2 separate regions of the Homo sapiens genome follow, and region 1 is reported to be linked to region 2. The links are microRNA targets in miRTarBase. Many come from high-throughput screens and were not tested one by one. Region 2 holds a microRNA gene; the other region holds the end of a gene's coding sequence.

Region 1 (5,317 bases), not on the chromosome of region 2:
CAGGACAGACAGCTTGGGGCTCACAGACCATCCAGCACACACACTCACACTGATAGACATGCAGACTGGAGTGTTTGCAGATCCAGAATACATACCCTTGCACATGCACACACTGCCCTCCCTCATGTTTTTGATATGCTCCCTTTCTTACATGTGGACAGAAGTTGAGGAGTCCCCTAAAATTTTGGGGAGATGGGCTAGGGAGCTAGGGGAGTAGAGTGACTTCTAGAATGTAATGGATATGGGCTAAAGGCTTTGATGCTCTGGTGTTCTTCAGTAGGAAGGATTCCAGGAGCTGAGGGTGTCAGGAGTTGGGGTTTTAAATTCGGGTATGAGGAGGGGGTGGGGACTCTTGAGCTTCCAGGGTGGGTACTGGGGCTCTGGGGGTATCTGCCGCCCTGGGCCGGGCGAGCCCTTGCCCCGATTATGTTTGGGGACCTCCGCCACTCTCAGGATGTGATGGTGGTGGGGGAGCCCACCCTGATGGGCGGGGAGTTCGGGGACGAGGACGAGAGGCTCATCACCCGGCTGGAGAACACCCAGTTTGACGCAGCCAACGGCATTGACGACGAGGACAGCTTTAACAACTCCCCTGCACTGGGCGCCAACAGCCCCTGGAACAGCAAGCCTCCGTCCAGCCAAGAAAGCAAATCGGAGAACCCCACGTCACAGGCCTCCCAGTAAAAGGCCCTGCTGTGGCCACCCAGTGCTCTGCCTACCTGCCCCACCCCTCACAGCCCCAGGGAGCAGAAGACAGAATGAAGAGACTGAGCATCTAAAATGGGCAGCCTCCATCCACCCGCTTCAGGGAGGAACTGGACTCTCTGGGGGCAGGTGCCAAGATTTGCCCCCCCAGTGGCCCTGGGCTGGGCCTGGCCTCTACAGAGCCTTTTAGGGGGAGGGGGTACTCATGTGGATGCCTACTTGGAACCTGGGCCTCTGAGACATGTCCTGACCACCCCCCAGGGCATTTGCCTCCATCTTCACCCCAGATTGTGGGTTTCCCATCCCCCTGACTTTACCCCTTTCAAGCCTGGGGTTGTCTATACCCACAGCCCTTAGGGACTTAAAGTTACGGGGCTTCGTTGAATGCTCCTTCCCCTAGGCAGCTGGTAATAGAGGGGTAAAGCTCTGGGCCCCTCCTCCCTGCTGCCACTTATCCCAGCTCCAAGTTTTTTTAAAAATAATATTATTAAAAATGTAAGTTAAAAAAAAAATCACTCATGTCCCCCCCTCTTCCCCCTATTAAAAGTCCAGCTACCTCCCTACTCTTGGCAGATGGGGGCCTAGGGCCTAGGTGGGGGTGAGAGTGGGGGAGGGAGGTGTGCATACCATTTTATATGGTGTGAGAGCTTCAGACCAAGGAGACATTTCACCATCTCTCCCCCTTTCCTCTGGGGTGACTGCAGTTGAGGAAAGCATGCCATGGGGTAGGGGGACATTGGTGGCCACATTTTGGTGACAGACCCCTGCTGTTGTCTCTGTGTCCCCATTCTCTGGACTCTGGCCTGCCCTCCTAGTGCTTGTGACTCCCTCTCTTCCAGCCCCACCCCCATGGTATGTATATTCCTTACAAGTCCTCCACAAGAGCAGCTGTCTAGGATGCGGGGAGGGGAGGCTCCTTCCCTTAGGGAGCGTGGAGAGAAGGGAGCAGCCTTGTTGCTGTATTTTTGGTTTTGTTTCAGTTGGGCAGGCATGGGATGGGAGAGGGGCTCAGCCACTTTCCTCCAGAATCTTCCCTCAGCCCCTCCAACTGCATATGTAATCCTACTCTGTCCTTCATAGAGGGGAAGGAGCCACAGATGACATCCCAGTTCTAAGCCCACCAGGGAGGAACAGGCCTCTGTCCCCATAGGTGAGGTAGAGGTAGAGGGTCTTCACCTGCCAGTATCCCCTGCCGCTCCTTCCTCACAGAAGGAAGGAGGAGGAGGCAGCCGGGATCCTCGGCTCTGCCAGGGTGCAGCCAGGAGCAGGGTTTCACGCAGCTGGTCCAGCTCTGTGGCTTTGCTGCCTTTTCCTGTGGCCAGTCCCAGGAAGTGCTAACACCACCTCTCTCCCCACTCTTCCCTCTGGATTCTGGGGTCCCCCACACCGTATTTCCTCCACTCCAGCTGCCACTTTTGGAAGGGTATTGAGTCAGGAGCTGAGGGAAGGGGTGAGGAAGGTGGACATCCCATCCCAACTGTAATGCCTTTTTTTTTTTTTTTTTTTTTTTTTTTTTTTTTTTTTTTTTTTGGGCCATTTGAGTCATGTATGGTACCAATCAATAAAGAGACTTTTCGGTTTGAGAGTGTCCTGGTTGGTCATTGATGCCTAATAATGACTCAGTCCAAGGCAATCTTTTCCCCATCCTTGCAGTTCCTAAGACTATGAATTGGATCCCTTCACTCACCTCACATTTCCCCTCACTCTTGAAGTTGTTTCCCTGAATTACACTTCTCCTTCACCCAAGACCCTAAAGTTTGTTCCCAGATGTCCCAGCTTGGCCCCATCTCCCTCAAAAGTTGAGGGAGAGTTGGCTTTCTCAGTCTGCTCCCCACCTCTCACCCCAGGACTGTTGCTTCTCACCCTTAGCTGTCATGGGGCAGCCAGACAGGTGGCCCTCCTGGGGCAGGTTCCTGGGATAGACTGCCTTGGGTTATGCCGTTGAGGGAGGGGTGGGAGAGGGGACTTGGCCCAGGAGGGGGCTTGGGTTAGATGGTCTTGGGGTACTTAGAGTACCTGGGAGACTCCTACCCCTACCCAGCCCCCAGTCTACTAGCCTGGCTGATGTTGGTTGGTTAGTTGGTTTATTTATTTTGAGATGGAGTCTTGCTCCATTACCCAGGCTGGAGGGCAGTGGCATGATCTGAGGTCACTGCAACCTCCACTTCCTGGGTTCAAGTGATTCTCCTGCCTCAGCCTTCCAAGTAGCTGGGATTACAGGTGCCCACCACTATGCCTGGCTAATTTTTGTATTTTTTTTTTTTTTTTTTTTAGTAGAGATAGGGTTTCACCATGTTGGCCAGGCTGGTTTCAAACTCTTGACCTCAGGTGATCCACCCGCCTTGGCCTCTCAAAGTACTAGGATTATAGGCGTGGTCCACTCTGCCCGGTCAGCAGCTGAGGTCTAAATTAGTCTCCCCTGGTGCTAAGGTCCCTGGGTGGGGGATTAAGAGAGTAGCAGGATTGCTACTCTCCAGACTGGGAAGATATGGAGACCCCGCTGTAGATTGGAGATGGGGTCTTAGTGCCCATAAAGCTCCCTATCCAGTGTCCCTCTTTGTCATCCCAGGCAGGGGAAGCTGAGGCCTCAAACTGTTCCCCTCCTAAGTTCTCCCTGGACCTGAAATAAAGCCCGATAGACTGGCACCTCTACCCTCACCTCCCTAGCTGGTAGGAAGACACCAGAGGAAGGGACTGTATGACCTGTCCAATCTCCAATCTACAGTTATCTTGGCCGTGCCCTGCTGCCAGCCCAGCTTCTCATAACCCAGTGCCTCAGGACCCCAAGGAATGCTATTGCACCCCACCCCCAACTCTTCCTTTGTAGATCTGGCCAGCCTGAAGGACATTTACCAGCCAACTGCCACCAGCAACTCACCCTGAGAGTGCCAGGTAACATCTACAGTGGGTCTGTGTCTGGCACTGAGTGTACATCTAGCCCATTAGCCTGAGTGTGTGTGTATGTATGTGCTGCTGAGCTAGGGAGGGCCTGGATCTGTTTATATGTGCAGGTAAGGGAGTATATACATGTGTTTGTATGTGGGCATGTATATGCATATGTTTATGTATGTGTCTGTTGGTTAATTAATTCATTCAAATATTATTCATTGAGCCCTCTTTAGGTACTAGGCCCATTCTAGGTGCTGGGGATATGATGTTGAACAAAGCAGAGAAGATGTGACTGCTGAGTGTGAGTGAAGGCTATAAATCCGTAAATGAGGGTGTGTTGTTAAATGTGTGGCTTAGCAGTGCGACTGTGTTGAGTTATGGGGCTGCTGGGACAGTGGTTGTGTGACTCGGTTGGGTATTTGTAGGTTCACGTCTTGTATGTATATGTTTGTGTATGGAGGGAGATAGTCAAGGGAAAAGGTAGATTGCCAGGCCTGGACCCCATCCTACTTGGGGGCAGGGGGTAGGTCAGAGAAGCAGGAAAACACACTATTGAACTCAGGAAACACAGTGGCCAGCAACTTCCTCTGGAGCCCCATATCTGGCTCCTCCCCATTTGCCCCCAGGAACCCCTGGTGAAGAGGAATTACTGGGGTGAGGGAAGAGAGAGACCCTCCAAAACCCTCATGCCCTTTGTTTTCAGGTACATATGTGGGCCCAGTCCCAAGCCTTAGCACATTGCTGAAGAGCTTTGTGCTGCTGAGCTAGGGAGGGCCTGGATCTGTTTATATGTGCAGGTAAGGCAGTGTATACGTGTGTTTGTATGTAGGCATGTATACGCATATGTTTACGTATGTGTCTGTTGGTGAATTAATTCATTCGGATAGTCTGACCATGTACCCCAGCCAGGGCTTCTGGATCCACAGAGGTCTGAACCCAACCCCAAACCTCTGTCCCTCCTGGACTCCCAGCTCCTTCCTCATTTTTCCTGACCCGGTCTGATCTGATTCAGCCAGAGAGCTCCATCCCCTTTCCTAGGAACCTACTGTAGTCTGGTGCAACTTCCAACCCCTCTTTTATACCCTTAGCCCAGTCCAGCCTGACTTCTTTTTTTTTTTTTTAAGATAGAGTCTTGCTGTGTCGCCCAGGCTGGAGTGTAGTGGCATGATGTCGTCTCACTGCAACCTCTGCCTCCTAGTTCAAATGATTCTCATGCGTCCCAAGTAGCTGGGACTACAGGCACATGACACCATACCTGGCTAATTTTTTTATTTTTTATTTTTAGTAGCGACGTGGTTTTACCATATCAGGAGTTCAAGACTAGCCTGGGCAATATAGTGAGACCTCATCTCTACTTTTTCTTTTTTAAGAGATGGAATCTTGTTCTGTCGACGAGGCTGGAGTGCAGTGGCATGATCTCGGCTCACTGCAACCTCCGCCTCCTGGGTTCAAGTGATTCTCCTGCCTCAGTCTCCCTAGTAGCTGAGACTACAGGTGCGCACCACCATGCCCAGCTAGTTTTTGTAATTTTAGTAGAGATGGGTTTTCACCATGTCAGCCAGGCTGGTCTTGAACCCTTGACCTTAAGTGATCTGCCTGCCTTGGCTTCCCAAAATGCTGAGATTACAGACCTGAGTCACTCCACCCAACCGAGACCTCATCTCTAAAATAAATAAATAAGCTGAGTGTGGTGGTGCATCTATAGTCCCAGCTACTTGGGAGG
Region 2 (5,339 bases):
TGAGGACATTTCTGGGCGGGATTGGCGGCCGGAGGCTAGGCCTGGCGTGCCGCAACCAACCGGTCCAGGCGGCAGGACTGGGCTCTTGTTTGAAACTTTGAGCGACTCTCGCGTGTGCGTGCCCCTTTCATCCGCGCGTGCCAGCCATTCCCCTGGGCTCCTTACTTTTCAACCATTGCAGGAACCTACTCCTACCGAAGGGATCGGGACGCAGGCTTTGGGATCCATCCCCAGTTCCCGCCCGGGGAGCGAGGCCGAGACGCCTTTGGGAGACCTGCTGGGTCAGGTCTCCCTGAGCCGCAGCCGGAAGCGAAAGGGGTCGAGGGGCCCATATAGGTCACCTGTCCTTGCGGCCCGCGTCTTCGGCCTGCTTGGGAGCTGCTGGAGCGGAGGCGTAGGGCGGTGTCGGCCCTAGAGGTAGACGCCGCCAGGTGTAAACTGCTCGTCTAGGCCTGTCCCGGCCGGCTGGCCAGGCGTGGGCGCTGTCCCGGCCTGGCCTGGGGGACTATCTGCCTGCTGAGTGCAAAGGCCTGGGGTGCCTCCTGCCCTAGCTGAAGTGGGAGGTGGTTTCCATTGCTGTTTTCTTTTCCTTATCTTCACTACGGCGCTCATTCTATGTCTGACTCTTGAGTGTAATTAGTGTAAGTCCTTTTTATACACTCACGTTCTTTCATCTTCCAACAACTCTTGTGGTTCCTGATGAGGAGGCACCACGATGATGATTCCTTGTCTGTTCCAGAAGGGCTCCCGGCCCTTCACTTGGGGAGTTTGCTGGAGGAGAGCTGGGTTGCCTTGCTCTGTCAGCCCCAAGTTGTAAAGTGTCACAGAATTGGCAGGGAGGGTTCGTGGGTCACTGATTAGTGTTTATACTTCTCCAGCAAGGATGGAGGCTGGGGGAGGGCTGGGCAGCCTCAGGAGTGCCACCCCCTCTATGAGCAAACAGCTCAGTGCCAGCCGGTCAATAGGATGTGGGTCAAAGCTCATGCTGCCCCTGATGTCCAAGTGTGGAGCTCTGTCCTTGGAGTTTCTCTGCCCCTCGGTTGGTCAGACCTGGAGGCGGGGCTGCCATTGACCATGAGCCTTCTGGGCCTCAGGCAGGCCTGGGCCTCCCCCACCTGTCTGAGGGTGGTACCCGGTCAAAGACAGGTTTAACCTGCTTTGCCCCGCCCCTTCCCACCTGCTTGTCCCACTCCAGGTGTTTGCTCTGGCCCCACTCCAAACTCCTGGAGTGTGTGTGTTGAGGGCTTCGGTTATATGTGATTGCCCTCATTTGGCCTGGAGGAGGTGACAGTGGACTGGAACAGGGTTGGGGGGTGAGGGGAAGGGACATAGGGCTAGGCTCAACAGGCGTGGCCTCTTATTCCCAGGCAGGATAGGGCTGAACATCTGGCTGAACCAGCTTTGCAGCCTGCCTCCTTCCTCCTACCCTCACTTCCTGCCTGCCCAGCTGTGAATCTGTGTGTTTCTCTCTCCCCATTCCCTATCCCCAGTTCTCACAGCTGGTGAACGGGGATGTGGCTTTGCTGGGCGGGGGCCCCTACATGCTCTGCACTGATGGGCAGCAGCTATTGCGACAGGTCCTGCACCCCGAGGCCTCCAGGAAGGTATGCTCCTGAAGGAAAACCGGGTGGGGTGGGGTGGTCAGTAAGGTTCCCAGAACCCCTCTTGTCCTGAGGGTGGGCAGGGCGCTCATCCTCAATCCTATGTGCCCCCAGAACCTGGTGCTCCCCGACATGTTCTTCTCCTTCTATGACCTCCGAAGAGAATTCCATATGCAGCATCCAAGCACCTGCCCTGCCAGGGACCTCACTGTGGCCACCATGGCACAGGGTATCTGTGACCCAGCAGGGTTAGGGTGGAGAAGCCACTGTGGGTACATGTGTCTGAGTATGTGCATGCTGTGGGTGGGTAATATGGACACATACAAGACTGCGTTATCTGCTAAGTCCCTGAGTGTACTGTGTCTTCGTGTCTGTGCTAGGATGAGTTTGGAATGTGGGTATGTGTCTGTCTATGTCTGGACTGGGAATCTGTATGTGCACACATGAACTGGGCCAAAACAAATGTGTATGCTGGTCTCCAGCATGTGTCTATGGAGGGGAGTTGGGCCCAGGAGTAAACAGGATTAGTGCTTATGCTAAGATGTCTTCACTGTCACTTCTCTGCCCATAGGTTTAGGACTGGAGACAGATGCCACAGAGGATGACTTTGGGGTCTGGGAAGTCAAGACAATGGTAGCTGTTATCCTCCATCTACTCAAAGAGCCCAGCAGTAAGGTTTCCCTCACTGCCTGTCACCTGTTCTCAGGGATGACAAATGCCTATTGCTCCTCCCCACTGTGACCTTCTCTAAGAGACCACGGGGGAATCCTCTTTGTCATTTCTTTTTTTTTTTTTTTTTTGAGACAGTCTCCCTCTGTAGCCTAGGCTAGAGTGCAGTGGCACAATCTCAGCTCACTGCAACCTCCACTTTCCGGGTTCAAGCGATTCTCCTGTCTAAGCCTCCAGAGTAGCTGGGATTATAGGCGCCTGCCACCATGCCCACCTAATTTTTGTATTTTTAGTAGAGATGGGGTTTCACCATGTTGGCCAGGCTGGTCTGGAACTCCTGACCTCAAATGATCCACCCACCTTGGCCTCCCAAAGTGCTGGGATTATAGGCGTGAGCCACTGTGCTCGGCCTGTCATTTCTTCATCTCTCTCAATTGTCCACTTTTTGCAGAACTTGGTGGGGACACCCCTCTCCACCAGACCCTGCTGACCCCCAGGCCATCTTTTCTCAGGTCAATTGTTTTCGAAGCCCGAGGTGATAAAGCAGAAATACGAGACGGGGCCTTGGTGAGTGTGGGAGCAGGGGCTGGGGGTGACAACAGCTGAATAGCTCTGACAGCACTGTGCCCTGCCCCTACAGCAGCAAGGCTGATGTGGTGGACAGTGAGACTGTGGTACGGGCTCGTGGGTTGCCGTGGCAGTCATCAGACCAGGACGTGGCTCGCTTCTTCAAAGGGCTCAACGTGGCCAGGTGGGTGTGGCAGGGTGGGTGGGCCCAATTGGACAGGCCTACCCAGGAGGCACTAACAGCACTGGCTCCACAGGGGTGGTGTAGCACTCTGCCTCAACGCCCAGGGCCGCAGAAATGGCGAGGCCCTCATCCGCTTTGTGGACAGCGAGCAGCGGGACCTAGCGCTGCAGAGACACAAGCACCACATGGGCGTCCGCTATATTGAGGTGGGGCTTTGGGCTGGGAGCGGAGCAGGGCCAATCTGAGTCAGGCCTGAGACCCATGGGCTGCTGCTCTCTGTACCCACAGGTGTATAAAGCGACAGGGGAGGAGTTTGTAAAGATTGCAGGGGGTGAGTATACTGCAAACAGGGCCTGGCTCCCCTGGTTCTTGATCCATTTCACTTCCCCACCACCCCTTGCCTGCCTGCTCCCCTGCATGGGTGAGTGTCTGGAGGAGCATGAGTGAAGTCAGCAGGCGACTCTCATACACAGGCACATCACTAGAGGTGGCTCGTTTCTTGTCACGGGAAGACCAAGTGATCCTGCGGCTGCGGGGACTGCCCTTCTCGGCTGGGCCAACGGACGTGCTTGGCTTCCTGGGGCCAGAGTGCCCAGTGACTGGGGGTACCGAGGGGCTGCTCTTTGTGCGCCATCCTGATGGCCGGCCGACTGGTGATGCCTTCGCCCTCTTTGCTTGTGAGGAGCTGGCACAGGCTGCACTGCGCAGGCACAAGGGCATGCTGGGTAAGCGATACATTGAACTCTTCCGGAGCACTGCAGCCGAAGTGCAGCAGGTGAGCGCCCAGGGCTCCCCACCCCCAGATGTACTGTTACTCCAGGGCGGCCCTCTGTGTCCCTGCCCTACTTGGCATGACCAGCCTGTTGCTGCCTTCCTTACTAGGTCTTGAACCGCTATGCATCCGGCCCACTCCTTCCTACACTGACTGCCCCACTGCTGCCCATCCCCTTCCCACTGGCACCTGGGACTGGGAGGGACTGTGTACGCCTCCGAGGCCTGCCCTACACGGCCACCATTGAAGACATCCTGAGCTTTCTGGGGGAGGCAGCAGCTGACATTCGGCCCCACGGTGTACACATGGTGCTCAACCAGCAGGTGAAGCCACTGCTTGGTAGGGGGAACACATAAATAGGAAGGGGTGTGTGTTAGGGGTAAGGCACTCTTACACATGACAAACTGCTCACAAGATGGTGTGCACAGGGCCGGCCATCGGGCGATGCCTTCATTCAGATGACATCAGCAGAGCGAGCCCTAGCTGCTGCTCAGCGTTGCCATAAGAAGGTGATGAAGGAGCGCTACGTGGAGGTGGTCCCCTGTTCCACAGAGGAGATGAGCCGAGTGCTGATGGGGGGCACCTTGGGCCGCAGTGGCATGTCCCCTCCACCCTGCAAGCTGCCCTGTGAGTGCCCTAGGGGCTAGGGGAGGAGGAGGCCTGTGGTAGCCAGGCTGTTGTAAGCCCCTACCTTCTATAGCGGGGACTCCTTTCTGGCTACCCCACCCAGGGCAGTGCTGGGCTCCGTGCACATGCACTTTCTACTTCCGTCTCTAGGCCTCTCACCACCTACCTACACCACCTTCCAAGCCACCCCAACGCTCATTCCCACGGAGACGGCAGCTCTATACCCCTCTTCAGCACTGCTCCCAGCTGCCAGGGTGCCTGCTGCCCCCACCCCTGTTGCCTACTATCCAGGGCCAGCCACTCAACTCTACCTGAACTACACAGCCTACTACCCAAGGTACCCTGCAGCTAAGAGAATATCACAGTCCCACTCCCTGTCCCAATCTGGGGAAAGGTCACGATCCCCTTTCTGGACCAGATAACTCCTCCCTTGAGATGACAAGGGAGTAAGGTGGCAGCTGGCTAATGCCATCTACAAAACAGATCGAAAATGACTCTGTAGAGGCTGGGGCTTCAGGGAGGAACTGAATTAAGCACAAGGCAGAAACAAGGGAGGAGGGAAACAGGTCTCGGTCTAGGCCACAGGTGGCATGCATGACTAAACCTTGTCTCTCCCACCCTAGCCCCCCAGTCTCCCCCACCACTGTGGGCTACCTCACTACACCCACTGCTGCCCTGGCCTCTGCTCCCACCTCAGTGTTGTCCCAGTCAGGAGCCTTGGTCCGCATGCAGGGTGTCCCATACACGGCTGGTATGAAGGATCTGCTCAGCGTCTTCCAGGCCTACCAGGTGAGATTGTGTGGCCGGAGGGCCTGGCGGGTCTGGCTGAGCTCTCTGCCCTAAATCTGTGTCCCTTCTGTAGCTACCCGCTGATGACTACACCAGTCTGATGCCTGTTGGTGACCCACCTCGCACTGTG

What was found. The annotated mature microRNA hsa-miR-6773-3p reads ACUGUCACUUCUCUGCCCAUAG and lies in region 2 at 2,151-2,172, shown strand. An mRNA with a match to its seed (bases 2 to 7 or 8) in the 3' UTR can be bound and repressed. Matches are read on the target gene's strand: a 7mer-m8 pairs with bases 2 to 8, a 7mer-A1 pairs with bases 2 to 7 and ends in A, and an 8mer does both.
Region 1: miRTarBase lists LDB1 as a target of hsa-miR-6773-3p. Seed matches in the 3' UTR shown: 8mer at 1,459-1,466.

The regions. Positions count from the first base shown.
Region 1 is chr10:102,103,460-102,108,776 of GRCh38, reverse strand. It overlaps LDB1 (LIM domain binding 1), which reads left to right. Exons shown (of 11, transcript NM_001113407.3): 11 at 454-2,288. The coding sequence ends at 684. Among named protein-coding and RNA genes, the nearest start is that of LDB1, 14 kb to the left of the region's middle. RefSeq lists an enhancer at 756-1,257.
Region 2 is chr16:68,230,259-68,235,597 of GRCh38, reverse strand. It overlaps MIR6773 (microRNA 6773), which reads left to right and starts at 2,099; the gene lies at 2,099-2,172. ESRP2 (epithelial splicing regulatory protein 2) reads left to right here. Exons shown (of 15, transcript NM_024939.3): 3 at 1,491-1,604; 4 at 1,716-1,830; 5 at 2,173-2,271; 6 at 2,783-2,837; 7 at 2,911-3,021; 8 at 3,095-3,227; 9 at 3,310-3,352; 10 at 3,495-3,796; 11 at 3,904-4,116; 12 at 4,222-4,420; 13 at 4,571-4,757; 14 at 5,044-5,209; 15 at 5,283-5,339.